Homo sapiens: one gene and its partners. The protein of the gene in region 2 purifies or fractionates together with the protein of the main gene of each other region. This does not show direct contact. Each region holds a gene or a part of one and is shown on either strand. Other genes may lie near its edges.

The links.
Region 1: the proteins of BMP7 (region 2) and CILK1 purify together in Homo sapiens (affinity purification with mass spectrometry; 2 studies listed by BioGRID and IntAct, with this or other methods). This does not show direct contact.
Region 3: the proteins of BMP7 (region 2) and VWA8 purify together in Homo sapiens (affinity purification with mass spectrometry; 3 studies listed by BioGRID and IntAct, with this or other methods). This does not show direct contact.
Region 4: the proteins of BMP7 (region 2) and UBR1 purify together in Homo sapiens (affinity purification with mass spectrometry; 3 studies listed by BioGRID and IntAct, with this or other methods). This does not show direct contact.

What each region holds. Positions count from the first base shown.
Region 1 is NC_000006.12:53,002,806-53,009,830, forward strand, and holds part of CILK1 (serine/threonine-protein kinase ICK), read right to left. Parts: intron 6,763-7,025; coding exon 6,634-6,762; intron 4,795-6,633; exon of another isoform or gene 4,684-4,794; intron 3,633-4,683; coding exon 3,510-3,632; intron 2,499-3,509; coding exon 2,344-2,498; 3' UTR 1-2,343.
Region 2 is NC_000020.11:57,263,621-57,271,017, forward strand, and holds the start of BMP7 (bone morphogenetic protein 7 preproprotein), read right to left. Parts: upstream 3,022-7,397; 5' UTR 2,503-3,021; coding exon 2,085-2,502; intron 1-2,084. UniProt on the Homo sapiens protein: Growth factor of the TGF-beta superfamily that plays important role in various biological processes, including embryogenesis, hematopoiesis, neurogenesis and skeletal morphogenesis.
Region 3 is NC_000013.11:41,951,089-41,958,113, reverse strand, and holds part of VWA8 (von Willebrand factor A domain-containing protein 8 isoform a precursor), read left to right. Parts: intron 1-7,025. UniProt on the Homo sapiens protein: Exhibits ATPase activity in vitro.
Region 4 is NC_000015.10:43,054,037-43,061,061, forward strand, and holds part of UBR1 (E3 ubiquitin-protein ligase UBR1), read right to left. Parts: intron 6,079-7,025; coding exon 6,016-6,078; intron 5,790-6,015; coding exon 5,666-5,789; intron 5,157-5,665; coding exon 5,049-5,156; intron 4,394-5,048; coding exon 4,305-4,393; intron 2,407-4,304; coding exon 2,308-2,406; intron 864-2,307; coding exon 706-863; intron 1-705. UniProt on the Homo sapiens protein: E3 ubiquitin-protein ligase which is a component of the N-end rule pathway. Recognizes and binds proteins bearing specific N-terminal residues that are destabilizing according to the N-end rule, leading to their ubiquitination and subsequent degradation.

The DNA of each region.
Region 1 (7,025 bases), on a different chromosome or scaffold from region 2:
TAAAGTATTAGAAAAACAATTTTATAATGTGCAATAATCAGGTAACTAGGTTTTTCAGTTAAAAAATGTAATGACCTTATATAAGCTAGATTACTGAGACTATGGTATTAAACAATCCATTTGCTCCTCTAAGGAATATTTACAATTTAAAACCTGCTTTCCAGCAAGCTGGGCCAGGTTTCACATTAATTTACTTTTCATATATAATACAGAAAATGAAAATAAATATTAACCTTATAGTAAAGGACTCATCTCTGAAAACACATGTTCTGATGCTTTAGATAACGAGTTGAGAATATAATACAGAAATGAATTCAGCTTCAAGTTGTGCTTGCATATATATTTTCTGAAGCTTTGCTGCCAGCTTGTTAACAGGAAAAGACCACCTATCACATCCACATCCATTATGTGCTTTTCTCATGCCCCTAGGGATCATGGTGCTTGGTCAAGTATATATTTGAGTCAAATTCTCCAAAGCATAAATTACTCTCCGATTTTAGGTTAGGGCCCTTTGGAAGCCATGGTTATTTGTTCAGAATGCAACATATTATTAATACACCAAGGCAATAATTTACCAAGTCATTAGGTTGAACCATATGAAAGTGTCTATATTCATTTCACCTATCATTTTAACCTATAAAAATGATCACTTGGCTGGGTGCAGTGGCTCATGCCTGTAATCCCAGTACTTTGGGAGGTGGAGGAGGGTGGATCACGAGGTCAGGAGATCGAGGCCGTCCTGGCTAACACAGTGAAACCCCGTCTCTACTAAAAATACAAAAAATTAGCTGGGCGTGGTGGCGGGCGCCTGTAGTCCCAGTTACTCAGGAGGCTTGAACCTGGGAGGCAGAGGTTGCAGAGAGCTAAGATCGCGCCACTGCACTCCAGCCTGGGTGACAGAGTGAGACTCTGTCTCAAAAAAAAAATAAAAAATAAAAGATTACTTACATATGGTTCAATTTGTCATTATCCTGGAACCAATAGAGAGTAGTTTGAGCCCTAGGAGAATATGAATCAATACACTGTTGAGATTGCATTGCGTTCACTGATGGTGACCTTCCCTCTTGCCTTTAAGGCAACCATAAGTGAGGCAAATGTACCATATAGAGATGGATGAGACTGGACCTTTTGTCTTTTTCTGTCTCCAAACTGACTTTGTCATTTTTGAAACTGCTGTAAACATTCCTCTCAATGGAACAGCCTCTGCCCAACAAATAAAGTTCTCACTCTTGAAAGAAACTACACCAGGGTTAGGAGATCAAATGTGGCATGTGACTGTGACTTTGTAGATGAGTGGAACCTCTGCCATAACTCTTTCTGCTCCCCAAATTGTCCTGAGAATTTGGCTAGGACAGAACATTAGTCATTGACTGCTCCTAGCCAGATCTGGAGAACTGAGCTAGGCACAAAATTCCATCTCAGTTACTATAATCAAAAACCTTCTGCTGCTTTGATACTTAGTTTTTTGGCCATGCATCTTGGCAGGAATGTAAGTTTGATTGACTGTGTTAACCTTCATGTTGAGAGCCTTTTGAAGCAGAAATCTCTTTTATTGGTACACATACAACTTGATTTCAAAAATGGAATAAATTAGAATATAATGGCATAGTATAATTAAGCTTGGTTTCATCTGAGATCTGCAACCACATTAAAGGGTGTCAGAAAAATTTTTTAAAATGTATTTACTTAGAGTTCTTTCATCTGGGGAACAAAAGTAAAACAAAGTGAATTATATAATATAATAGTCCTTTTAGAACAGCAGAGTGGTATCCAAAAATCAAACCAATGACCTACTAAGAAAAGCAGAGGATCACTTTTCTAACAACAGTCCAAGAAGGCCTGAAGTACCTAGTGAGCCACACTTGAAATTTCACCACTTCATAAATATCTGCACACACTGAGTAAATAACCCTCTATCACATAGCCTTAAATTGCACCCCTGTTGCAATACTGCATTAATATTATTACATTTTTCAAAATCTGTAGAAAATATTATCTGGAACCCCAAAGGAAAATCAATTAATTTTTAAAAAGTTCATTACAAAGTTGACTGTATAAAATGCTAAAACATAATCCATATATACAAAATGCTGTTGTTTAAGAAAATAATGGGACCCAGTTTTAGAATAAAATAATTTTATACAAAAAAGCCTACTGCATTCAAATCAATATTTTAAAAAAAAACTTTAAAAAAGAATATTGACATGTCTTAGTTCAGAAGAATAACTATAAAGTGTTGATTTGCTTTTATGCCCTCTGCACATCTTGCAGGTAGAACACCAGTCAGCTGAGGGAAAGTATCCTGCTTCTCCCTAGGAAGAGATTCATCACCAAGGCAGACAGTCATCGCCGAGATGCGTACTTGGAAGCCCAGTCTGTCCGGCCATGCACTGGCTGGGCGGCTGGAGGCCGTGGTATCAACCCAGGAGTGCTTCTAGGCTGGGTGTGGAAGAATGGTCGCCCAGGATGAGGTCTCATGGCCTTCAGGGAGGAATAACCTGCAATGAAAGAAAAAGGCCGGCATGACTGATATGGGGCCAATGTAAGCAAAGTACAAATAAATGCATTTTGGTGACAAAAACATGAGAAAATAAGGAGTTCAAGAGGAGCATCTTGTCTCCTACTTATAATCTTCTCTACTGCAGTTAAAGACATCGTTTTAAAGTTGTCAGGCCAAAAATAATGGCATCATTCTTGACCCCTCTTTTTTTCATATACCACATATAATTTGTCAGGATATCCTATTAGTTCTACCTTCCAAATATTTACAGAACCTGGCAACTTTTTACCAACTGAACTACTACCACGCTGGCCCAAGCTAGCATCATTTCTTACCTGGATAATTTCAACATCCTCCTAATTGGATTCCCTGCTTCCTACCTTGCCCCTACTTCAGTCTCATGACAACAGCAGCTTGAGGGAGCCTGTGGAGATGGCTGTCAGATCACCTCACTTATGGACTCAAAGCCCTCCAGGGACTCCACGTCACTCAGAATCCATGACAATGTGCTTACAGGCATCGTATCACCCCTGACCTCATCTTGCTACTCCCCCTCTCACTCCTGTCACTCCCACACTCTGGCCTCCTTGCTGCTCCTTGAATTTGCCAGGCCAGTTCTGCCTGAAAGCTCAAGCACAGAACAATCTCCTGTCTGGAAAAGCCTCACTCATACTGTATGCTTGCTCAATCACCTCCTCCAGGTCTCTACTCAACAACTCCTTTGCAGTGAGCTCTTCTTTAGCTACTCTATCTAAAATTGTAACCTGTACCCCACACTCCAACCCCCACAATCCCTACCTCCTGTCTGCTGTATTTTTCTCCTTAGCACTAAGTCAGTAAGCATCTGACTTACTATATGTTATATAGCACTTATTTAGCTTACTTATTGTCTGTAGAGTGCAAGTTTCATTTATTGGTGGATCCCAGGCCTAAAACATGCCTGGCACAAAGCAGTTGTTGAGTAACCATTTGTTGAGTAAATTCATGAATAATTTAAAATACAACTCACCAGGGGAAGGGTCTGGAATAGGTGCTAGGTGTACCCTCTGCATAGCAGAACCGATTTCTTTTTTCAGAAAGGAAGGGACATAGTTTCCAGTCAGTCCACTAGAACTTGTAGAGCTGGAACCAACTGATTTGCAAAAGCAAAAAGCTCATTATTACAAAGACATGTACCCAGGACACCAACAAGGTTAAATGACAGCACTGCAGAGCAATAACAAACTAAGTTTTTACTTTTAGGGAAAAGAGCAAATCATGATAAAAATGAGTTCAGAGCCAAGCATCCCACCATACTACCCTGTCAGAAAGACTGCGGGGGCCAAAGACAGTGCTGCTCCTGTGAGGGGCAACCAAATAGAGGGTGGGTTGGTTGTGAAATTTTTTTAAAAAAGGGAAATATGACATTTGTTCTTTATTTTCTTTTGTAAAAGTAGATTTAGACTATTCTAAAATTTGCTTTTTTCACTCCATAATATAGAATAGTTATCCTTCCATGTGAGTACATATAAATTCTAGAGTATGGCTAAACCATAATCCATTTAACCATTTTCTTATTGATCAACACACAGGTTATATTAAATTATTTAGCTGTGACAAGTAATTACACACTAAATATTCTTATCCACATCAGAAAAATTAACCATTTTTTACAATGTGAAATACCTTAACTTTTTATGTCATTTCCACTTGGGAGTGCTTTAAGGGCAGGGACTGTATGCTACTCGTCTTGGTATTCTGGGGAGGATAACAGAATGCCTTGCATATAGCAGATAATCAATTAATTTTGGATGGGTGAATGAATATAATTCTTATTATTTAGGCTTAAAGGTACACATGGAATAATGAAGACTGTTATTATTGCCCGTTATAGAAATGGAAATTCTAACCATTAAGAAAAGTCAGTAAGTAGTAGAGTTGCTCTGTTTTCACAACACAGAGCTTTTTCAGCAATTGTTTAAGGCAGAGTGGAAACACAGTCTAGAATGCCTGCGTGAGGAGTTGCGTTGGTCAGCTGGGGTGTATTTTGTACTTTGGTGAATGAAGAAACATGAAGAAAAATGGGAAGAGAATTTGAACAGGTAAGTCACAAAAGAGAAAAAACTTATAGTCAATAAACACAAGAAAAGATGATGAACCTCATTAGTAAATAGGACATGCAAGTTTAAACCACAATAGGATACCATTTCTCACTCATCAGATTAGCACAAATTTTAGTCTTGACAGTACCAAGTGGCATCAAGGATGCAGAGCAACTCCCATATCCCGCTGGAGAGCAAGTAGTTTGGCAATATCTGTGAAGTTGAAGATGAGCACACCCTTTAACCTAAAATGTTGACTCTGGCTGGGCATGGTGGCTCACACTTGTAATCCCAGCACAATGGGAGACCCAGGCGGGTGGATCACCTGAGGTCAGGAGTTCGAGACCAGCCTGGCCAACATGGTGAAACCCTGTTTCTACTAAAAATACAAAAAAAAAAAAAAATTAGCTGGGTGTGGTGGCACATGCCTGTAATCCTAGCTACTTGGGAGGCTGAGGCAGGAGAATTGCTTGAACCAGGGAGGCAGAGGTTGCAGTGAGCCGAGATCATGCCACTGCACTCCAGCCTGGGCAACAGAGCAAGACTGCGTCTTAAAATAAATAAATAAATAAAAATAAATAAATAAAATAAAATAAAATAAAATAAAATGTTGACTCCTAGTTCTCGTACCCAGAGGAATCCTCACACATGTGCATAACAATAGGGGTACAATAATCATCTCAGCACTCTTTCTAATAGCAAAAATTGCAATCAACTTATGTATTTATCAAGAAGAGAAGGCATACATAAATTATGGTCCACATAAATAATAAGTTATGGTGTTGTATAGATATATATTGTATATGTTATATAATATATGATATATATCTCTATAATTGCTACACATATATTTATTAAAATGCATGAAGCAGTGATCCAAGATTATCTTCACATAAATTTTAAAACCTGCAAAACCACACTATGAAGTTTATACAAACCTAAATAAACACTCGATCAGGCTGGCATGGGGGGAGGTAAGGGGAAGCAGGGAGGCGGGAAAGGCACAGACACTGGGCTTCATGTGTATTTGCCAAGTTCAACTTTTTTTTTTTTTTTTGAGACAGAATCTCACTCTATCACCCAGGTTGGAGTGCAGTGGCGCAATCTTGGCTCACTGCAACCTCCGCCTCCCAGGTTCAAGTGATATCCTGCCTCAGCCTCCTGAGTAGCTGGGATTACAGGCCTGCTGCCACCATGCCTGGCTAATTTTTATATTTTAGGTAGAGACAGGGTTTTACCATGTTGGCCAGGCTGGTCTCAAACTCCTGACCTCAAGTGATTCACCTGCCTCAGCCTCAGCCTCCCAAAGTGCTGGGATTACAGGCATGAGCCACCACACCTGGCCAAAGTTTGACTTCTTAAGCTGGGTGATGGCTACACAGGTGTTGCTATATTATCTCTTTCTTTTTTATTTTCCTTAAATTAAACAAACACCTAATGGATGAAGGCAGTGCACTTGGCAGTGCAGAGGGGAAAGCAGCACATGGCAGGGGCTGCCTGCATCAGGGAAAAATGATGCAGGAAACGTCTCTACTGTGAACAGGGTTTGTCAGCCTTGGGACTCAGTAAATTCATTCATCCGTTTAACAAAAAAAGTGGGGAGGGTCTTCCAAACTGTCCACCTTCCAACTAGAAGGGATCTTGATACTCTGGGCCTGCAGCTGGGTCATCAGAAGGAGGGGACAGGCTGGAACAAGGCAGACACAGCCAAGGGTGACTTCCACCTCAAGAGGAGGGTGCCTGCTGCAGCCAGGGCTTTAGCCATCAGGCCTAGTAAGAGTCTGTAAAGGTATTTTTGTTTTTCCCTTGAGCCAGGGATGACTATGCTCTACTCCCCAGCTACCCTGGAAGGCAGACTCCCCTGGGAGCTGGCTGAGTCCCAAGGGACTGCTGCCGAGAAAGAGAGGAGGATAGGGCTGGAAAAGAGGCCTGAGCTTTCAGATGACAAAGGCCCCTGTGCTTCCAAAGCCCGTCCCATGACTCCTTGTGCCCACCTTCCTGCATCCAGGGAATTTGCTTTTTGCCATTTAGGGGTTAATGATCATTACTCACCTGAATTTACTTTGCTGATTACTGACATTGTCCCTGAAGATTTTCCAGACAAGCCAGAACTAGACCATGGATTAGGTGGAATAAATTCCTTGCCTGGATTCGAGAGTATGCCATTTCTTATACTGATCCCTGATAGAGAAGAAATGATTTTAAAATGCAAAATACACAATGAATCTTACACTAGACTACAAAGATAAAATTAATGCAGAACTCAATTTGTCAAAAACTCTCTATGATACAATAATCAAAGCAAAAACTGACTGTGATGATGTCATCTGACAGATGTCCGAGGAAAGATATCTCACTGGTTGGTGGCCCGAGAGAGGCCTCTTATGCTTCTAAGATCCAATGGATCTGTCCCACCTCTTGGCCCTCTGGTGCCATCCTGGGCT
Region 2 (7,397 bases):
GACCTGCACATTCAGTGGGAGTCCGGGGTACCCAACAGAAGGGAAGATGCTATAAATCCCCCACCAGAGAAAGGGCCCTGGCTAACCCCAGGCTTCAGGAGGGCGACAGAGCTCTGCGTTCATTATTTATATGTATGTATTTGGAATTTTCCTTTAGTTTTTGGTATAGTTAATAAATACACATTGTTTTAAAAAAATCACAAATACAGAAGTGCAGACGACGAAAAATCAGACCCCACCTCCCACTCCGTAAGCCCCAGCTATGCCCCCGCCTCTCTACCCCTCCAGTAAAATCTCTCTCCAGTTCCTGGTGTCTTCCTCCAGGAGGACACGATGATATACAAGCACACATGCAGCCCACTCATCTGCACCTTGCTTCTTTCCACCTCATACATCTTGGAGATGGTTCTAAATCAGGTCATATGTTGCTGCTTCCTTCTTAACTGGCTGCTTAGTATAATTTAAACTTTTTTGAAGGTATTTTGGCATCTAAACCTCCCACCCCTTGCTCGCTGAAGCTTGGTTCACTAGTTGGATTTAGTTATTATTAAGTACAGACAATGGCCTCCCGGGAACTCCAGGGACCTTATCAGGAGGGGGAAGCATGAAGGCGGATCTGCGCTTCCCCCGCGCCCCCAGTCCACGCCCCAGGTGCCCAGCGTGGGGCTTCAGTATCATTATTTCCATGTTGACACAGCGCCCGTGGGCGTGAGTTTGCTGTCTTGACTTGGTTCGGGTTTTCGCAGCAAGTTACACAAGTAGAATGAAAGCGGCTCAGGAAACAGCGCTATCGGGGTGTGTTATCTCGGAAACCAAATATTTGATCATCAGTCCCGCAGCGCGCTGGCGCTGCCGGGGGGTTAGTTTGAGCAAGTCTGGAGAATGTGCGCGCACATATGGAGGGGGAGCTCCCCGGCCCTCGCTGCAGCCCCAGGCTCGCGTCGCCGGGGTCGTCGCGGCTCCAGTCGGAAACCGGGACCCCCAGCCGCCCCCGCGGCGTCAGCTCTGAGATCCCGCGCAACCCAATCGCCAAAACCTGTGGTTTGCGCGCCACACGTGGTAAATGCTGAAAATAGATTCTGCCGGCCCGGGACCTACCACTAAATACTTAAAATAGAAGACTAGCGGCAGGGCACAGTGGCTCACGCCTGTAATCCCAGCACCACTTTGGGAGGCTGAGGCGGGAGGATCACCTGAGATCGGGAGTTCGAGACCAGCCTGCCTAACATGGAGAAACCCTGTCTCTACTAAAAATACAAAATTAGCCAGGCATGGTGGCGCATGCCTGTAATCCCAGCTACTCGGGAGGCTGAGGCACGAGAATCGCTTGAACCCGGGAGGCAGAGGTTGCGGTGAGCAGAGATCGCGCCATTGCACTCCAGACTGGGCGACAAGAGTGAAACTCCGTCTCAAAAAAAAAAAAAAAGAAAAGAAAAGAAAAAAAAAGAAAAAAGAAAAAAATAAACAAAGAAAGAAAACAAAGAAAATTAGCAATGGCACCGTTTCTTCCCCAGCTCCAGCCAAGAGAGAATGGGGCATCCGGCGGCCCGGAGAGGGGCCCCAAGGCGCTCGGAGCGCGCGGTACGCTAAGGCGGGCGCACCACGAGGGGACAGGTAGGGCTTGACAGGGAGGGTAAGGGGGTGCGACGGCCGCGATGCCAGAGCCAGGCAGGGCTGAGAGGGGCCCAGGAAGGGCGGCAAGGCAGCCTCGCCGGGAAGGGCCCTTTACATCCAGGTAGCGCGAGCCGCGCCGGCCCGGGACAGCTCACATGACCGAGCCCCGCGCTTTGAACGGCCCTTGCCTCCAGCCCCAGAGATGCGGCCGGCGGCGTAACATGGAGGGGACTTCGGAGGATCCCTCCTTCCCAGTAACCCCTACAGGCTCACCGAACCCAGCGCGCCCGACCTGGGGGCGCACACAGCTTGGGAGTCATAGGGCTGTGGGTGGGAGACCCTCGGGCAGGCACTGCGATTTCAGCCAGGAGCGGAAAGCTGGGCGGGCTGCATAGAAGAAGCGGCTCCCTCCCTCCCAGTCTCAAAGTGCCCCCGAAAGGAGACGCGTACCCTCGCCTGCCCTTACTCACCGAGGTTGACGAAGCTCATGACCATGTCGGCGTCGGTGAGGAAATGGCTATCTTGCAGGCTGGCCAGAGGGGGGCCCTGGGTACTGAAGACGGCCTTGTAGGGGTAGGAGAAGCCCTGGCCGCCGGGCCCGCCGCCCTCCTCCACCGCCATGGCGTTGTACAGGTCCAGCATGAACATGGGTGCCGAGTTGTGCTTGCCCTGGAGGTGCGGGCGCGGGCGGTGGGGCAAGCCCAAAATGGAGAGGATCTCGCGCTGCATCTCCCGCCGCTCCTGGCTGCGGAGGCGCCGGTGGATGAAGCTCGAGTGCACCTCGTTGTCCAGGCTGAAGTCGGCCAGGGCGGAGCGCAGCAGGAACAGGGGTGCCCAGAGCGCCACGAAGCTGTGCGGCGCCGCAGCTCGCAGTGAGCGCACGTGCATCGCGCCGGCTCTACGCGCTACCCGGGCTCCGGGCTCCGGGCCCGCACCGCCCCAGGTGGCAGAGGGGGCAGGCGGCCGTCCGCGCCGCTCGGTCACTTGCTGCAGACGGGCCCCGCTGCGCCCGCGCCAGACATGGCCCCTCCCCGGCCGGCCGCGCTCTGCCCGGACCCCCGCCCCCTGCTCGGTGCTGGCCCCGGGCCCCTCGCCCCGCACTCGCCCGGGCGCACCGCAGGGCTTGGAAAGCAGCCCCGGCGAACGAAAAGGCGAGTGAGGAGGCGGGCGCGGGTGGGAGGAGCAGCCAGCAAGCCTAGGAGTCCAGAGAGCCAACGCCGGGGAGGCAGCGAGGAGGCAGGCGGGCGGGCGAGCGCTCCTTCTTCCCGCTCCTCTGGCGCTCTCGCCCTCGGGCGGCGGCAACCCACCCTCTTCCAACCTCCGGCGCGGATAGCAGGGGCCCCGGGGCGCTCTCCCAGCCTTGTGCGCCCTGGATCGCACAAGAGGCCGCCTCGGGAGCGCCAGAGTGGTACGCGCTGGGGCCTGGGCGGAGGAGGAGGAGGAGGAGGACGGGCTTCGAGGGGCCCCTCCCGCGCCGGCGGCCTCCCACCTGCCCTCGGCCCCGCCCTCCCCCCAGCTGTGCCCAGTGGGTTCATTCATTCCCTCTAGAGCGCTCGACAAATGTTTACTGAGTGCCCACGGGGTGCCTAGAGCCTGGCGGGACGTCGCGGGGATGCGGCTGGAGGAATCGGAGCCGGCCCTGCCCTCTCGGCACTCGCGGTCCGGACCAGGAAGGCGGCCCGAGCAGGACGGGTGGGCTGCGGACCGCGGTGGGAAAAGTTGGGGGAGCGCGGAGGTGGCGCGGAAATAGAAGGCTTCCTGGAAGCGGTGACCCTTGAGCCGGTCTTGCCCCTCAGTCCCTGTATCCTTTTAAGCCAGCCACGCTGACCCCTCCGCGCCTCCCTGAAGCCGTTGCCAGCCTGTCTCTGCGCTCGCCATTCCCTCCGCCTGGACCTCTCCCCACTCACCACCTCCCGCCCCCATCAGACGCTGCTTTCTCCTCCCAGAGACCTCCAAGACCTGCCAAGCTGAGGTTGTTTCCTCGCCTCGCCCCTCGCACGTTTGTTTTCTTTCCTGTAGTTTCTCTTGCTGTCTGGAATTGCTGTTTGAGTTACTCCGTGCCTTCTTTATTGCCTTCTTACCCCCGCTAGACACCCAGAGCACTGGGGCCCGGATCAGCGATCTTCTCCGCACCTCTGGTACCCGCAGTGCCTTGAACCCAGCGCCTGGTAGCCACTGTAGCTGCGCAGTCACGATTTGTTGAGTGAATAAGTGAACTGCGTGTGAGCTGGGGGGGTTCTTCCCACCTCCTCCTCTTCGGGGCCCTGTATCTTTCCAGCCACCCCTCAGCCTGAGACCAGACACCCCAGCCCCACCACTAGGGCTTCCCATCAGCCCTCCTCGTGGCAGTGCCTGGGGAGCCAGCCGCTGGTCTTCACATCCTCTTCCCCTCCAAGGGTCTGTGCCTGAGACCTCCCCATCGGCCTCCTCTCCTGTCTCTCCTCATCCATTCATCCCTCAATCAATACCGAGCCATGCACGCTGTCACAGGGAGTCCCCAGACCACTCAGAACCCACCGGTCCCTCTGCCGGTGTGGGATCTCAAGGGAATTACTGCACCCAGAGTGGCAGTGAGGGCAGCGGGGTAAAAGTTCATCCTGTCTCCTTCCCCTCCTGGGGCTGGGTGAGAGAGTGGGTCCCCAGAGGGCCTTTGGGATGAACTGGGAAGGGCTGAGGTTGGGGAAGCGGGGGCGCTTGTCTGGGAGGGGCTCTGGCTAAGCCTCACTTTGGGGCTGTCCTTCCTGGAGCAGGAGAGCTGGGGAAGAGAATTATGGTCTTCTACAGTTTTCTGGAGCAGAAGTAGTTTGGCCAAGTGGCCCTCTGGGTCTCCCTTGGGGACTTTTGGACTAGATGGCAGCCTGAGGGGCCACATGGGTGGAGAAAGGGGAGGCCAGAGGCCAGGCAAGGAGCAGAAAAATGCCAGCCTGCAGGTCCTGGCCATTTACACACAGGCCCCAGGCTGTGGGATGGAACAGGTCTTGAGCCCCATGCCAGGGAGGGGCCTCTACCCACCCACCAGGCAAGGCCCTCAAACCACCCCCACCACCTGCTCTTCATCCATTCACTCCTTCCTTCAACAGACAAGCATGGAGCACAGGATATCAGGAGGCGAGCTGTGGGGCCTGCAACCTGGACAGTCGTACAGGGCCCCCCAGCTCTTAAGGGCCCCACACTTGGTTTCCTACTCTGAGGTCACCATATGTGGTTCTGAATCACCTATGAACAAAGTACCCCCTGCCCCGTACTAATTTTGCACCTGGCCCAGATATTATGTGGCCAGTCCCAGGGCCAAGCACCATGCTGGGCAGGAAGACATGGCCATGAGCGAACCCACATGGCAGACTCCATCAAGGAGCCGGCCTCCAGGCCAGGGAAGCAAAGCAAGAGCCTTAAATAAGATTCAGGGACTGAAGGAGAGGCAGATCTTGTCTATCACTCTCTCTGGAAACAATTCAGAAGCCAGGCAGAGGAGGACATGCAGGAGGGAGAAGGAAAGGTGGGCATCCTGGCAAGCAGGAATCCTACCCCAGGGAGACTGGGGAAATTGCAGGAGTGCCACAGTCGTCCAGGGTCCATCTGAGAGTGTACAACTGGAGAGCCTGGGTCACTTCAGCCTGCAATAAGTGACAGGCAGTGGGGGCGGGGGCGCAGATAAACAGGGTGAGGTGATGGAGGGTGGGAAGGGGAGTTTTTGGAGGAGATGCCACTGACCTGAGTCCTGAAAGACAAGAAAGAGACAGGCTTTTCCAGGGAAAGGCATCCCAGGTGGAGGAACAGCAAGTGCTTGAGCCCTGCAGAGCAGGGAACAGAAACCAGGCTCGGTCCCCAGCCCTGCACACGCCCTCCAGCGCTGGCTTGCTAGGGACAGGCTATGCCACCTCCAGTGCCAGTAGAGAAAAAGGAGGTCATTTTCTTCCAAAGTCTGAAATAATAAGGAGCCAAAGCAGCCCTGTTCTTCAGTAGTAGTCTCTGCTTTTTATCTACTCTCAAATCTTTTGGAGGGATCTTCACAAGCAGGTGAGGCTGGGGGCAGGGGCAGCAGGTCTTGGTGCTACAATTTACATATGAAACAACTGATCCGTCAGTGTCTAAGCAAGGATTCTAGTTTACCCTTCTTTGTGCATCTCACCTGAGCCTATTCTGAGCCTGGCACACAGCAGGTGCTCAATTAGTACCTGTTGAATGAATAGTAATAAGCACAGCCAAAACCTAAAGAGACCGGTTGACTGAGGGCTGACTGTGCAGGCGCCAAGCTAAGGCATCTCCCAGATCCCTCACCCCAGCAACCCTTCCTCTGAGACGCCATCTTTTCTCATGCAAGAGGAAGAGACAACATGCTCTTCATATCCAAGACCTCAAGAGATAAGGTTTCCTCTGAAGTCCCACAAACCCCCATTTAGCCTTATCTTTTCTGTGATCCATGCTTGGTGGGGGGGTCTTTCTTTTCCCTGTTTCCTCCCCGAGAGGCATCCCCAAGACTGCACCAGGCCCTCAGTGAATGCCGAATGAATGAATGAATGAATGAATGAATGAATGAATGAAAACCGGCAAGCAAGAAATATCTGGCTGGGAGTGCATCCGATGCCAGTTTGGGAGCTGAGCCCACCACCAGAAAAGGCTTTGAGATTGCCGAGGGCAAGTCTTGTGTGGAGGAGGTAGCCTGGGCACTGGAGCCTGCCCAGCCGCATTCACACTCCAGCTCTGTCTCTTCCAGCTGTGCACCATGGGCAAGGGACTTAACCTCTCTACACCTCAGTTCCCCCATCTGTAAAATGGGGTGACTGATAGCGCCTGTCTTCTGGGATCGCTGTGAGGTTGCAGAACTTAATTCATGGAAAGGGCTTTGCACAGTGCCTGGAACACAGAGAAAACCCTTGATAAATGTTATTGTGTTACCATCTGGATGAAAAGGAAAATATGGTAACAGGAAAGCCTCCTGAGTTACAAAATAACAACAAAACTTTTCATGATGGTCTGCTTTTTGGCCAAGCAGAGAAAAGCAGATGTATCCTGACTCTGAGAGCAAGAGCAAAAGTACCAGAGCAAAAGAGAGAGTGAAGTGGAAGGGAACATGAGAGATGAAAAGGTCATCACTGCATTCCAATCCTCACATTGTGCCTAGGCCCCCTGCAGGCCAGCTGGGGCCCAGGGACTTCCCTGGGTCCTATCTCATTTCCCCAGCAGCTAGCCCCCAACCCACACACCCCCAGTTGTGGTTCCCCTGGCCAGGGCACCCAGCACTGGGCTCCAGGACCGTAATCTGATCTGCCCCAGTCTGCTCCACACCTGGGGCCGCCTTTGCCTGGATGAAAGACGGCCTGGAATTGTAAGGGGTGTTATTGTGTCGGGTGGCCCGGTCCCAGTGTCCGCGCCCCTCGCCTGCTGGCCTCCCAGTGCTGGGCCAGGAGTTTTCATTTCCTACATCATCAGTCACATCTTGCTGAAGTGATTTTGACCAAGTCAGCATGTCTCTCTAAGGCAGTAAAAAGAAGAAAAGAATTCTGCTGACACACACATTGTTCAGCGAGGTGGGGACCTCATCTTCATCCATCTGCCCTAGAGGAGGCTCAGCTGGCCTGGAAGCTCCCTGGGGAGCACAGCCAAGGAAGCCAGTGGGCTGCTCTCTCTCTGTCCACACCACCTGGCAAAGGCCAGATGACCTGGACCTCCAACCCCAACAAGGAATAGAGGGCCAAGAGCTGCCTCCTGCACAGGCTTGAAAATCGTTGTGTGCAGAGGTGGACCCTGCAGAGGAAATTATTAGAGCACACCTGTGGTGAAAT
Region 3 (7,025 bases), on a different chromosome or scaffold from region 2:
TAAGTATCTATAATTGTAAATTCTTTATATCTCTTTATACTTCCATTAAAATTACTGTCTCTTGGTTTTAAGAGCAAAGAGGTTAACAAGGATATCTACTGCAGAGAGTTTTCAATAAAGATTATTGTAGTGTTTTTACAGATGGAGCCAAGCAAGTTGTTTCAGTGGGACTCTGATGTTAAATGGATTCAAATATACTATAGATCAAATGATAAACCTAGAAACATAACTGTATAAATATATCATGACATTTTGGTGCTTTCCTTTAACGCCATTATTATTAAAGGGATTCACAGTTTTTTCTTTATGACTCTTGTATATGAAGTAAATTTGTTTATAGAAATACCCTAAAATACTTTTACACAGCAATCTATGTTTATTATAGAAGAGTGATAAGTACAGATTCCCTAAAACATGATCCTCCCACCCAAATTTATAATTATCAACTTTTTAGCATTAATCCTATCAGATTACATATATATGTATAATTATTTATTTATTTATTTTTGAGATGGAGTCTTGCTGTGGCACCCAGGCTGGAGTGCAGTGGAGCAGTCTTGGCTTACTGCAACCTCCACCTCCTGGGTTCAAGCGATTCTCCTGCTTCAGCCTCCCAAGTAGCTGGGACTACAGGTGTGCACCACTGTATTAATCTGTTCTCACACTGCTATAAGGACATGCCAGAGACTGGGTAATTTATGAAGAAAAAGAGGTTTCATGGACTCAATAGTTTCGCATGGCTGGGTAGGCCTCACAATCATTGTGGAAGGCGAAGGAGGAGAAAAGTCACGTCTTACATAGCGGCAAGTAAGAGAGCTTGTGTACAGAAACTCCCCTTTATAGAACCATCAGACCTCGTGAGACTTTTTCACTACCACGAGAACAGCACAGGAAAAACCTGCCCCCATGATTCAATTACCTCCCACTGGGTCCCTCCCATGACACATGGGGATTATGGGAGCTAGAATTCAAGACAAGATTTGGGTCGGACACAGGCAAACCATATGAGCCACCCCAGCTAATTTTTGTATTTTTGGTAGAGATGGGGTTTCACCATGTTGGCCAGGCTGGTCTCGAACTCCTGACTTAAAGTGATCTGCCCATCTTTGCCTCCCAAAGTGCTGGGATTACAGATTTGAGCCACTGTGCCTGGATGATATGTATATTTATACAGATACATTTTTTTAAAGAAATGGGATCATGTATGTTTTATAATTATTACATCCATTATTGTGAACATATTAACATGGTAATAAATATCATTGTACATGATTGTTTAAAGTAGTTATTAAGTTTATATGTTTGTCCATATAATTTATTTTACTGTCTCATTCTTGCACATTCATGTTGTCTAAAATATATAAACAATGCAATAAACATCCATCTACATGAATTTTTGTTATTTTAAGATTATATCCTTGGGCTACAATAGGATTAGATAGAAATAACTTTGAGGAGGGGAAATATAGAACTGTGGCTTCAACTGAGAAATACAGTGTAAAGAGGAAAGAACTATACTGTGGTTTTGGTCTAAGTTTTGTATTTATCAGGTATTGAACCTTGGGGAAATTATTAACTACTTTAAACCTGCAGCAGGTTATTTTGACCCTGAGGATATTCTGACCCCATTGTGTATTCAAGAATTTAACAGAAAGGCTCAGAACAATGGTAAGCTTATAAATCATTAGGCAGATCTGCATTAGGGGCACATAGACTAGTGTGGGAATTGCTGATATATTTAGTTTTCTCTTGGGTCTAAGTTTAGTATATATAAAAATGATGACACTAACCCAGTAGTTCTCAACCCAAGGTGATTTCTCCCCCTCAGGGGACATTTAGCAATGTCTGGAGATGTTTCTTTTTGGTTATCAGAACCAGGAGGGAGGGGTGCTACTGGCATCTAGCGGGTAGAGGCCAGTGATGCTGCTAAACAGTCCATGACACACAGGACAGCCCCTCACAACAAAAAATTATCTGGCCCAAAATGTTCATAGGGCCGCTGTTGAAAAACCCTCATGAAACCAACTTCTTTGTCAAAGCTACTGTTAGAAACTTTAGACTCACTAAACTTAACAGAATTTAAGCACAGAACAATTTGTGAATTGGGCAGTCCTCAGAACCAGAATAAGCTCAGAGAGCTCCATTCTGAAACGTGAGCAGGCAGCATTTATGGACAGAAAATGGAAGTCAGGTACGGAAACAGCTTACTTGGCTATAACTCAGTGTTTGCCTTACTTGAACACGGTCTCATCAGTTGGCAGCCTGTGGTTGACCCAAGCTCAGCTGCTCAGATTGGCTAAGACTCATCTATTTGTTACCAAAGTATACTCCTAAGTTCCGGTTTCAGTTAATTTACATACAAAGTTATGTTGCAATTCATTACATAAGGACTCCAAGTACGGAGGCATCCTTAGACCAAATTTGGTTGAATTTAACAATTTGCCCCTTTGGTTAGCTTCTCAATTTTGACAGATTCACTGAAACTTTGGGCATTGTTGCCACTCTCTGTCACCAACTTAATGGACTTACTTGGTCTCATTATGGAATTTAAAAGCCATGATGTCATATCAGTTGAATAATTCTTTATGTTCTTGCTGTTCTGGTCAAAGTGAGACCATTGAATGCTCAATGAATGGCTGCATACAAACATTTAAGACTTGAGAGGATATGGTGCACCAGAAGGGCTATCATGAAGAATCTCAGGATAATAATAAAGACTGTAGTGTACTTCTTAACAGGAGCCCCTGTGAACTGAACCAATCAGAAATCCAGCAAGGTTCAGGCACTTTAGACACTTCAATAGTATTTGAGTCTAGTTCAAGTAAACCCACAGTTTACATGAAGAAAGGCATACATTTGCTTCTTTTGCCTAAATTATGTTACCTGTTGTCTTATAAGTATTCTTATTCCCCTTTAGAGAGTAAACTACCTCACTTAAATCATTATAGATGGCTTGACTTATAAGCACATTAGTAGGTGGGATGTTTTCAAAGGAGAAAACATTACAGCTTAAAAACAATACTTAAGAAAAAATTTAAAATTATAATTATTCATTTGTCAAACATTTATTGAATATCTGGTAGGTTTCAGGTATTGGGGATAAAATGATGATTAAAACTTAGGCCTTGCACCAAGAAAAAAAGAGTCCTGTAGACTAAACAGTAGTCTTCAAAAATTTTTCTTATTTATCTGCTAGGAGGATTTTAAAAATATGTATCCCTTTGAACATTTTTAGGTTAATAGCTAAAGTTTTCCTGGTAAGTTTAAATAGTTGCAAACGATGACATTTCCAGTATGTTGTAAATATTGGCATTTAAAAGAAAAAATATTACAAATTCTGAGTGTATCTTTTAAGTGGAAACAGAATATTCTAGTAATTTAGTACAAATTCTGAGTGTATCTTTTAAGTGGAAATAGAATATCCTATCTCTATTTTGGAAGTAGATAAAAAGCTCTTCTTTAATTGTTAGAAAATGTCTCTTATCTCCTTGAATTTGTATTTCCATTACAGAAGCATAAATCAGATCCTGTGCTAGCAGAAAGACTAATGGAGTGATCAATTTGTGCTAGAGGAAAAGTTAGGGAAGGTTCAATGGGGAGATGAAGATATTTCAGTAGTAGTTGTGTAGAGGGCAAGTGGTGTGAGAGAGATGTGGAAGGTCTTCTAGGCTGAGGAGATAAAGTGTTAGTCACTGAGATAGGAATACAAGAGGTGGAGCTGGTTAGAGGTGGTTAGGCGCACACAATGGACAATATAGAATTCTGTTTCTGTGTGTTTGTTGAGTTGTCTCTGGAATATCTAGGTAAAGTCTCCAGTAGGCTACTGGCAGGTATGAAACTCAGGAGAGAGATCTGAGCCAAAATAGACATTTAAAGAATTAGTTGTATATGGTGTTTGAAGAGTACCCTTAACTGAAAAAAAAAAAAAGGTTGTATAGAGGTCAGAGTTGGGACATTGGTATGGATTAAATGACTGAGGAAAGTGTAGTGTAGTAACAGAAGATGGCCAAGAACATCAATGTTTGAGGCAGAGATGGCAGATGCCTGGTCCATATGAATGTCATAACTTTTCCCTTTTGTCTATTGCAGATGTGGCTCATTGATCACCACCCTGTTTCCCAATGAGTCCAATTTCCGTTGTGATTTATTTTTTGGATTTTTTAAGAAGCCTGTTGCTTGATTTCCAAATGTTTGGGGATTTTCCAGTTACCTTTTTGTTACTGATTTCCAGTTTAATTCCACTGTGGTAAGAAAACATAATCTTTATGACTTCCATCCTTTAATTTTCTTTTTTAATTTTTTTTGACACAGAGTTTCACTCTTGTTGCCCAGGCTGGAGTGCAATGGCGCTATCTCGGCTCACTGCAACCTCCGCCTCCCTGGTTCAAGCAATTCTCCTGCTTCAGTCTCCCAAGTAGCTAGGATTACAGGCATGTGCCAGCCACCACGCTCAGCTAATTTTGTATTTTTAGTAGAGATGGGGTTTCACTATGTTGGTCTGGCTGGTCTCAAACTCCTGGCCTCAGGTGATCCACCCACCTCGGCCTCCCAAAGTGCTGGGATTATAGGCACCAGCCATTGTGCCTGGTCTCATCTTTAAATTCCTTGAGACTTGCTTTATGGTCCAGCCTATAATTTATTTTGGTGAATGTTCCATGTGCATTTAAAAAGGATATGCATTCTGATCATGAGGAACCAATTACAATACTAAAAAGTGCTTTATAAAATACAATATTCAGTTGATAGGTTGAGAAAATAAAAACATACTTGCAGTAATACTTAAATAAATAATAAATAGAATATGCATTCTGTTGTTGGGTGTAGTGTTCCATAAATGTCATTTAGGCCAAGTGATTAATAATGTTTTCCAATCTTCTCTTTCTTTACGTCTATACTTGGTCTTTGCCAGAAGGCTGAGAAAAAATTATCCTTATCCTGTATCCTTCTTTATTTTTTCCTACTTCTTCCATTATTTACCAAGAGAGCTACTTAAAGCTATTAATATCTAGATGTGATTGTGCATTTTTCTATTTCCACTTTTAGTTCTGTCCGTTTTTGCTTCATGTTTATTTCCCAGCTCCCTCCCTGCCAGGTCACCATTATGGGTTTGCTGTGTTACCCAGAAGGAGGCTTCCTAACACAGTGACCCTCTCTGCTTGCTCTCTCCCCTTGCCCCTTCAGGCCTAGGGGCGGTAATGACTTTCTGTTATTGCTAGTCCTAGGATACTGCACCATCTTTTTTGGTTTCCGTAAACTCTGCTATACCTTTGTAAATAGTTCCCTTTTTGTACTCTCCTCAGTTACTCAGTTTGAATGTACTGTCTTTCAGAAATGTGAGGTATGAATTTTACTTTTTTTAAAAAAAAAATGGACAGCCAATTGTCAAGTTACCATGAATTTGTATAGTCTGCCCTTTTTCTAGATTATTTATTAGAAGGATGATGTCGGTCAGCTCTAACACTCAGGGAATGTTTGTAATGAGAACCTGTGCCTGAAAACGTTTTTCTTATGTTCAGATTAATTACTCAGTATCATTTTGTCAGGAGGCCAAATAATTACAGTCTTTTCAGGAAGTGAAATAACATTTGTAAAGACATCCTATTTGAAAATACTGTAACTATAATTCTTGAAACTACTCTGTAATAAAAGCCAGTAGATAATATCACTTATATTTGTAAGCAAGCTTATCTTTTAAAAGAAAAGCTACTGTAGAAAGTAGCTAATTTATAGGTTCTTTCCTGCATTAAGGAAAATAGGGCGAGATGACCAGTCAACCAATACCTGGCAGTAACTAAGATTGTACTATATGAGGCACTGCTGACCACCTGTTTTTTGAGGGTGTTAGAACTTAAACGACCAAATGATCTCAAACATGCATTAGAGATCATCTGGAGGGCTCATTGTAACACCGATTGCTGGACCTTAGGGTTTCTAATTCAGTAGGTCTGAGGTGGGGCCTGAAGATTTATATGACTTACAAGTTCCCAGGTGACGTTGATGCTTTGAGAATCTCTGTGATAGATTGCGTGAAGACAAAGAGTTAATTGGACAGGGGAGGAAAAGGGAGCGGTGCACGGGTTATGGAGGAGCTTTGCAGGCTTTTGAATTTTGGTCCTCATCATCTTTTGCCTTGCTTTTTTCTGGCTGCCAGTTTTGGACCTAGCAGGGATTTAGCTTTGTGTGTAGTCCTTATCTTCCTCTCTCAATTTACCACATACCTGTAATAAATTTCTTTATCTGTTAAAAACTCTGTTATGGATTTACAAATTTTCTCATTTGTAAAATTTCTGTCTCATAGGATTATTTTGAGAATGCAAAAAATACTTAGAAGGTAGTAAGCATTCAACAAATGTTGGCTATTGTTATTAGTACCATGATTTAAGGCCTTAGTGTTCAAGGTATCTTGCTAGCTTTAAACTGGCAGTGCTGAAAGATGAGTTTTGCACGACTACTTTTTTGGAGTGTCTCTGAGCCCTTTCCAAATGAAATTCTAGATGCAAATGGTATCACCATGCCTATTTTGCTGTTAGAGAGAGCACAGCGGGGAGAGATTATTCAGTTTAGTCCTCGGCTTTAGAAGATCACTCGGAAATTAAGGTTACATTAAAAAATAGAACTGTATAGAACTTACTGAAAACTTTTGCCTGCTTTTGCTTATTTCATGTAGGAATTCTTGGCTTTTATTTTTTATTTATTTGAGACGGAGTGTCGCACCGTTGCCCAGGCTGGAGTGCAGTGGCGTAATCTTGGCTTGCTGCAACCTCCGCCTCCTGGCTTTAAGCGATTCTCCTGCCTCAGCCTCCCAAGTAGCTGGGATTACAGGTACGTACCACCACGCCCAGCTAATTTTTGTATTTTTAGTAGAGACGGGGTTTTACCATGTTGGTCAGGCTGGTCTCTAACTCCTGACCTCAAGTGATCCGCCTGCCTTGGCCTCCCAAAGTGCTAGGATTACAGGCGTGAGCCACTGCACCTGGCCAGTTCTTGGCATTTATGCCACTGGGGCTTTATTCCTTTTATGCACC
Region 4 (7,025 bases), on a different chromosome or scaffold from region 2:
TATAGCAAAAAGGAGTTAAAAAAATGTTAACAGCCAGCCGCAGTAGCTCATGACTGTAATCCCAACACTATGGGAGGCCAAAGCAGAAGGACTGCTTGACCCCAGGAGTCCAAGTCAGCCTGGGCAACAAAAAGTGAGACTCCGTCTCTACAAAACAATAAAAAATTTGCCAGGCATGGTGGCACGTGCCTGTGGTCCCAGCTACATGGGAGGCTGAGGCAGGAGGATCACTGGAGCCCAGGAGGTTGAGGCTTCAGTGAGCCATGTTTGCATCACTGCACTCCAGCTTGGGCAACACAGCGAGACCCTGTCTCAAAAAAAAAAAGAAAGAAATTTATGTCAATAGATTGTCTGAAACTATGCACAAAGAGACTATATAGGAAGGACAGAACCAAAGTGTGTGAGTGGAAGTGAATGAAAAGTATGGTAATTACAATGGCAATGCATTTGGTGACCCCAGGAGATCCCAAGTTCCTGTAATGGGCCTCTCCTCAATACCTTCTTTACTAACCAGGTTTTACAACTCAATAAGAAGCCTTCACTGAAGACATTTATTAACGCGAGGCAGTAACAGTTCTTTGTACTTGCCATCATTATAAAGAGAATTCTGGATAACCAAAATGATCACAGGATTACTTATAAGACACAGCAAATAAGCACACTGAGTTTAACAGGTGCCCTCACCTTTTGACTTGAACAACTTACTTTAGGTCACATATTACTGCATATACTCTTCCCAATTTGTCCTGGCTATAACCCTGGAAGTTGAATTTATTGTTCCTGTCCAAGTACTCAGGTAAAACTTCTAGCAGAGTTTCAGTAATGACAGAGATAACATTCTGCTCTTCAATAAGATGTCGAGCCTGCGGAATATTTCAAGAATATTTTCTTTAGCATTAACTCATTGTGGTATGGACTTAATTTATTCATTCATTTGGTTAGTCAGTATGTCATTTTTAATAAATGTTTGTTATTGAATGTTAAACACAGTCCTTAGTTTCACTGAATAGCAACTACTAAGAAGTTATTTTCTAAAAGAAAAAATTCCCTACTCCTCAGTAACTAGACAACACCTATCTGGATACTCCAAGCCCATTAGACAGGTTATCTAGATAAATGTTTATCATCAGTAATGTGGTGGCTCATGCCTGTAATCCCAGGACTTTGGGAGGCCGAGGCAGGCGGATCACCTGAACTCAGGAGTTCGAGACTATCCTGGTCAACATGGCAAAACCCCATCTCCACAAAAAATACAAAAATTAGCCAGGTGTGGTGGCAATGCCTGTAATCTCAGTTATTCAGGAGGCTGAGGCAGGAGAATCGCTTGAACCAGGAGGCGGAGGTTGCAGTGAGCCGAGATCGTGCTACTACACCCCAGCCTGAGTGACAGAGAGAGACTTCATCTCAAAAAAAAAAATCACACAATGAGCAAGTATAACAAAGATATACTTCATGACTTCTAGCACACTACGATCTATTCTGAAATCTCCTCCTTACCCCAATCTAAACTCTCCTCTCCATCCTTTTGAAAAAGTAAAGTAGAAACAATTAACCAAGTTTGGATAACTATCTAATTCCAGACAAGAAAAGAAGTAGGGCTGGGCGCGGTGGCTCACACTTGTAATCCCAGCACTTTGGGAGGCTAAGGCTGGCAGATCACCTGAGGTCAGGAGTTTGAGACCAGCCTGGCCAACATGGTGAAACCCCGTCTCTACTAAAAATACAAAAATCAACCAGGCGTGGTGGTGCCTGCCCGTAGTCCCAGCTACTTGGGTGGCTGAGGCATGAGAATCGCTTGAACCCGGGAGGCGGAGGCTGCAGTGAGCCCAGGTCGTCCCATTGCACTCCAGCCAGGGCAACCCAGCCAAGACTCTGTCTCAAGAAACAAAAAACAAAGAAAAGAAGTGGTATACAAAGGAAGCAGAATCTTCCACTCTCCTCCCAGGCCTATGCAGCACCCTCTCTCCCAAATGCTTGACAGGCACACCCTCCCACTTCTTAGTTTTATCTTATTCTATCTGCCTACAAACAATAACTTAAAAATAAAATATTTTTGGTATTGAAAAGGCAGTGTTCATAAGTTACTCTAGAAAGTAAGAAACCAGCTCTAGGTGTCATCTGCATTGACGAGGACATCTGAACCAAGGCAGCGCCTAGTTAACTAGTCCTTGGGTAGCACTAAAGTATTCACATAGCCCAACTTAGTGATTCTAACATTGTTCTAATTTGATTCAACATTAAGTGGAATTCTTACAAAGCAAAACAAGTTTTACTTAGAAAGACTGAAAAGGAATAATCAATACATACCAGAGTAGGAACAGTAAACATCTGAACTGAAAGTGCAGTTATAGAGATACTTCTGTCATGATCATCACTGATATATTCTTTCTGCAGTTGTTTATAATACTGAAATATATAAGTAGAGAATCAATTATAAATCACTACTAAAGACCTTTAAAAAATCCCAATTTTAATAACTGCTGCAGGTTTGTTTCTATCTATAAAATGTCAAGTAATATAATTCCTATTTATTAAGGCAAGATATTATGATCAGCAAAAATATCTTAGAAGGAGAATAACAAACAACAAATCAAGTAAAAATTCACCTACTCAATTTAGCAGAGATAGAAGTGGAAACTATTAAAATATACACATAGGTTAAAAAACAAACAAACAAACAAACAAAAAACAGAGGACTGCAATGGTATAGTTTATCCTTTCTCCAAACAGAATCTGGGGCAATCTTTAGCAGCTTCCACTCTAATGGTATTGGGCAGGGAATATATTCAAAGTATTTAACAACTGATATGACCCAGAAAAACCAACCAATCAGATTGAATCCAGCCTTAAACAGAATGGATGCTGGCTGCAAATAACTTCTTTCCCATACTGGTACATAACAGCTGCAAAACAACCCTGATATACTGGGAGAACAAAAATAGGAATATACTCAGTCACATAATAGGCATCTATTATGTGTAAGGCACAAAGTTGGATACTTAACCTACTTTAAGTTAGATACTTTACCCTCCAGAATTCCTACAAAGTTTAAGGGGTAACCATGGTGTACAAAAAAAATCATCTAAGTAGGGAGATTAGCTTTTGTATAAGAAAACAAAATTTCATTTCAGATCACACATATGGTCCAATATTCTATATCTGAAGAGTTTTAGAAGAGAACATCTTGAGTTGCCATCACTGCTGAAGGATAAGACATACAACAAATGTCTTAGTTACTTTTAAGTCTGCATATAAAATCCAGGTAATGCAGGTATCTTATCCCACAGTGTCATTTGCCTACAACAATCATTATTTCTTTCTCTGCTTCCAATTCCATCTTGGGTCCTATATCTATCTTAAGTCTTACAGAATTGACTGCAACTCAAAATCAGAGGAAATCAACAAGTATGACTGGCAAGTATGATTGCCTTATATAAGGCAAAATAAAAGATTCAAAGGAGTCCTTGATCTGTATACCCTTGCAATCTAATTTGGTAGATAGACAAAAAGATACAGTAAGGTAAGAGATACACGATAGATTAATAAAACATTAAAAAGCTGTAAATTTTAGCCTTATGCTTTAGCTTCCAAAAACTAAGTAGAACTCTTGGCCACCTAATTCCTGCCCCCCACTTTAGCATACACATCTGTTCTTCTTTCCTGCTATACTTTTCAATTAGTCACTTCTATTCTTATTGTAATTTTACTAACAGGCAAATAAATGATTAGGAAGACTGAATGCATATGTGAATGTGATAACCTCCCTTTGCTCTGGGTCAGTGGGTCATTTTCCACCTATCTCTTCTCTAAGAATGCTGTTTCTATACTAGCAAATAACATTTGTGAAAATATTTATATAACGTATGAGAACGAACTTTTTTTTTTTTTTTGAGATGGGAGTCTCACTCTGTTGCCCAGACTAGAGGGCAGTGGCGCGATCTTGGCTCACTGCAACCTCTGCCTCTCAGGTTCAAGTGATTTTCCTGCCTCAGCCTCCTGAGTAGCTGGGACTACAGGCACCTGCCACCATGCCTGGCTAATTTTTGTATTTGTAGTAGAGACGGGGTTTCACCGTGTTGGCCAGGCTGGTCTCGAGCTCCTGACTTCAAATGATCCACCCACCTCAGCCTCCCAAAGTGCTGGGATTACAGGCGTGAGCCAACCCGCAGGGCCAAGAACAAACTTTTGACAAAGAAATAAATCATAACATTTAATTTTTGATTCATAATTATCCCTGTTTCTATTAATTCATTTATAAAAACTGCCTATTTCTATTTATTGATATCTAATTTATAAATAATTACCTTCACAAATTCCATAGCAAAGAGTTTTTTGTATTCCATCTCCATAAAAAAACTGCTGAAGATCAATTCATGAAGGATCTTACGGGCACCTATAGATTATTTTGGGGAGGGTGGGGGAATGAGGAGAATCACCAAGGCAAAAACCAAAAACATTCTGGCTATTAGAGTGGCAGAATATTATAAAATTACTTCACATGCAAACAGACCTCAAATAGTATTTATTGTATTAATATTTAATAACTGGAATTTAAAATACACACATATATTGCCTTTTCCCTCTTTTTCTGCACCCCTCCCACCACTTCATCTTACACTTCAATTTACTCTCTCCCAACCTTTTCATTCTTTTTCTATTTCACTGTACTTTTCCTTCTCCATGCTTTTAGCCTTTTACGTTTTGTTCTTCATTTAGATTTTTACAATGAAAATAGCATCTTTTTCGCTACTCGATAATGGCACTACTACCTGAATATATAGATACATGTATAGACACATACATATATACTCTTTTTGACTGGCTCTCACTAAATGAAAAGACTCTATAATTAAAAGACAACATCCCTGGGTTTTAACACCAAAGAATACATACTGACTGGTTAAACTTTATATTCACATGTAGTATCTTATCAATCAAGATTACAGATTTAATAACTAATTTAATAAACAAAAGATATTACAGCTCCACTTTAAGGTCATAATCTTCCTTTGCTTCCTGACAAACAGCATAAGCAAATGTCTACTTACCTTTATAAAGCTTTGCATCCCAAAGCATTAACCTGCTTATGAGACAGGGATTCTCCGAGTCAGGTTCTTCTCTAAGGCATGCTTGGCAAAAGATCTGCCTAAAGTCACCTACAAACAAAAGAGGTCACACAGTTACACAACTTGTATTCTTTTTCTTTTTAAATAGAGATGAGTCTCACTCTGTTGCCCAGGTTGGTCTTGAACTCCTGGGCTCAAGCGATCCTTCCACCTCAGCCTCTCACAGTGCTGGCATTACAGACATGAGCCCCTGTACTCAGCCATAATTTTTATTCTTATAACATTTCTCCTAAAAGTACATTTCCTATAACATGTGAAAAGAATAATATTAATCCTCCCACATTTGAGGCAAAGAATAATTCTGTCAACATCAAAGACTCAACAGCCAATAAAAAGATATTATTTGATACTATGCACTTGAAATAATATCCTAAGATATTATACATTTGAAATGCAACCCTGAAAATTAATCAAAGTGTATAAACCAAAAAAAAAAAAAAAAGAAAAACTTTATTTCATACTCAATGACATTTTAAAATTTGTGGCTATAAAACACATAGTATTTTATCAGAAACAAGAAAAACAGGAGGTATGCTTACTTGAATAGCTCATAATTTTGTTCATCCAGGAACCAAGACGCAAAGCAAATTTCTGATGAGCCATAATCTCTGAGTGTAATACTTCTACATGAAGTGGATGTTGAGAGACATTTTCTGAATGACTCTACAAATGAAGGGAACGAACCAAAAAAATAGCATTTAAAATTTGCTTTTAGTTAAGGGATTTATACTTCAAATGAAGAAATCACATAACCCTGCCAGTTCCAAATCTCTGCATCTAGGTGCCCCAAACCACTTCAACGACATCATCACTCAAATTATTCTACTTGGGCTCTTGTAATGTACATTCATCTTTAACTTCTCTTTTTCCCCCTAATTCAGAAAGTTACCTTTATATCTTCCTTTGCTTCCTGGCAAGCAGCATAAGCTCCCGCTTTAACAGCCCGACGACCCTAATTATAGACAAAAGTGAGAATTAGGTAGTGAAATGATAACCACAATCAATAAGCAATATGTAGCCCAAAGACTTAATGAGCTCTTAACTGAGCTCTAATCGCGTGTTGACTAAAAGTTGTAAGATACCGGAACAATATCTGAAAGACAGATGCAAATGTTTAACACCTTTATGAAGTATGAAAACTTTAATACCTCTAGGACAGACAGTCTATAGTTTAAGATGCTGAGTTTCTTGCCTGGCAGGAATGGCAGTTCTTTAGTTACTGCAGTGTCCTCTCTACTTATATGAAACAATGACTCAGGCTTTCTAAACTTCTGCTATGTATTTAAAATATTTTTCATGAATGAATTCACAGCTCTTCAACATGTATCCTATGATATACTTGTGGCCCATTAACGAGCGGGAAGTATAGCTGGACTACTGATTCCACCAGTCCTGGAGGCGGTCATGCAAGGTCTATGTAGGATTTCCTTGTAGCTCATTCTTTTACCCACCTGTAAAAATTCATCATTTTCTATATGTGCCATGTGAAAAAAGTCAGGAAGCACTGTCTTCCTCATTTAACCTTTACAATGACCCTATGAAGAAGGTATACCACATTTTACAGATGATAAAAAGAAAAATAAGACAGAAGTTAATTTGTCCCCCAATCAGAAAGTTAGCAAGTGACAGATTCAGAGATCCATGACAAGCATTTCATCTCCAGAGTCTGTACTTTTAACCATCCTGTAATATTCCCTCTTTAGCTGCTTAGTACATAAGCATAAGAACTATCCAAATATATTTGGACTACTAATTACACCAGTAAGGTTGCCATTACAGAAAAAAAAAAAAAAAGCACAAAAAGCCAGGCCATAAGAGATTGTTAAAAGAACAGATTGGACAAGAATAGTTACATAAACTCGAGCTCAATCAGCTTGTATGTATGTGATGCTGGCAATT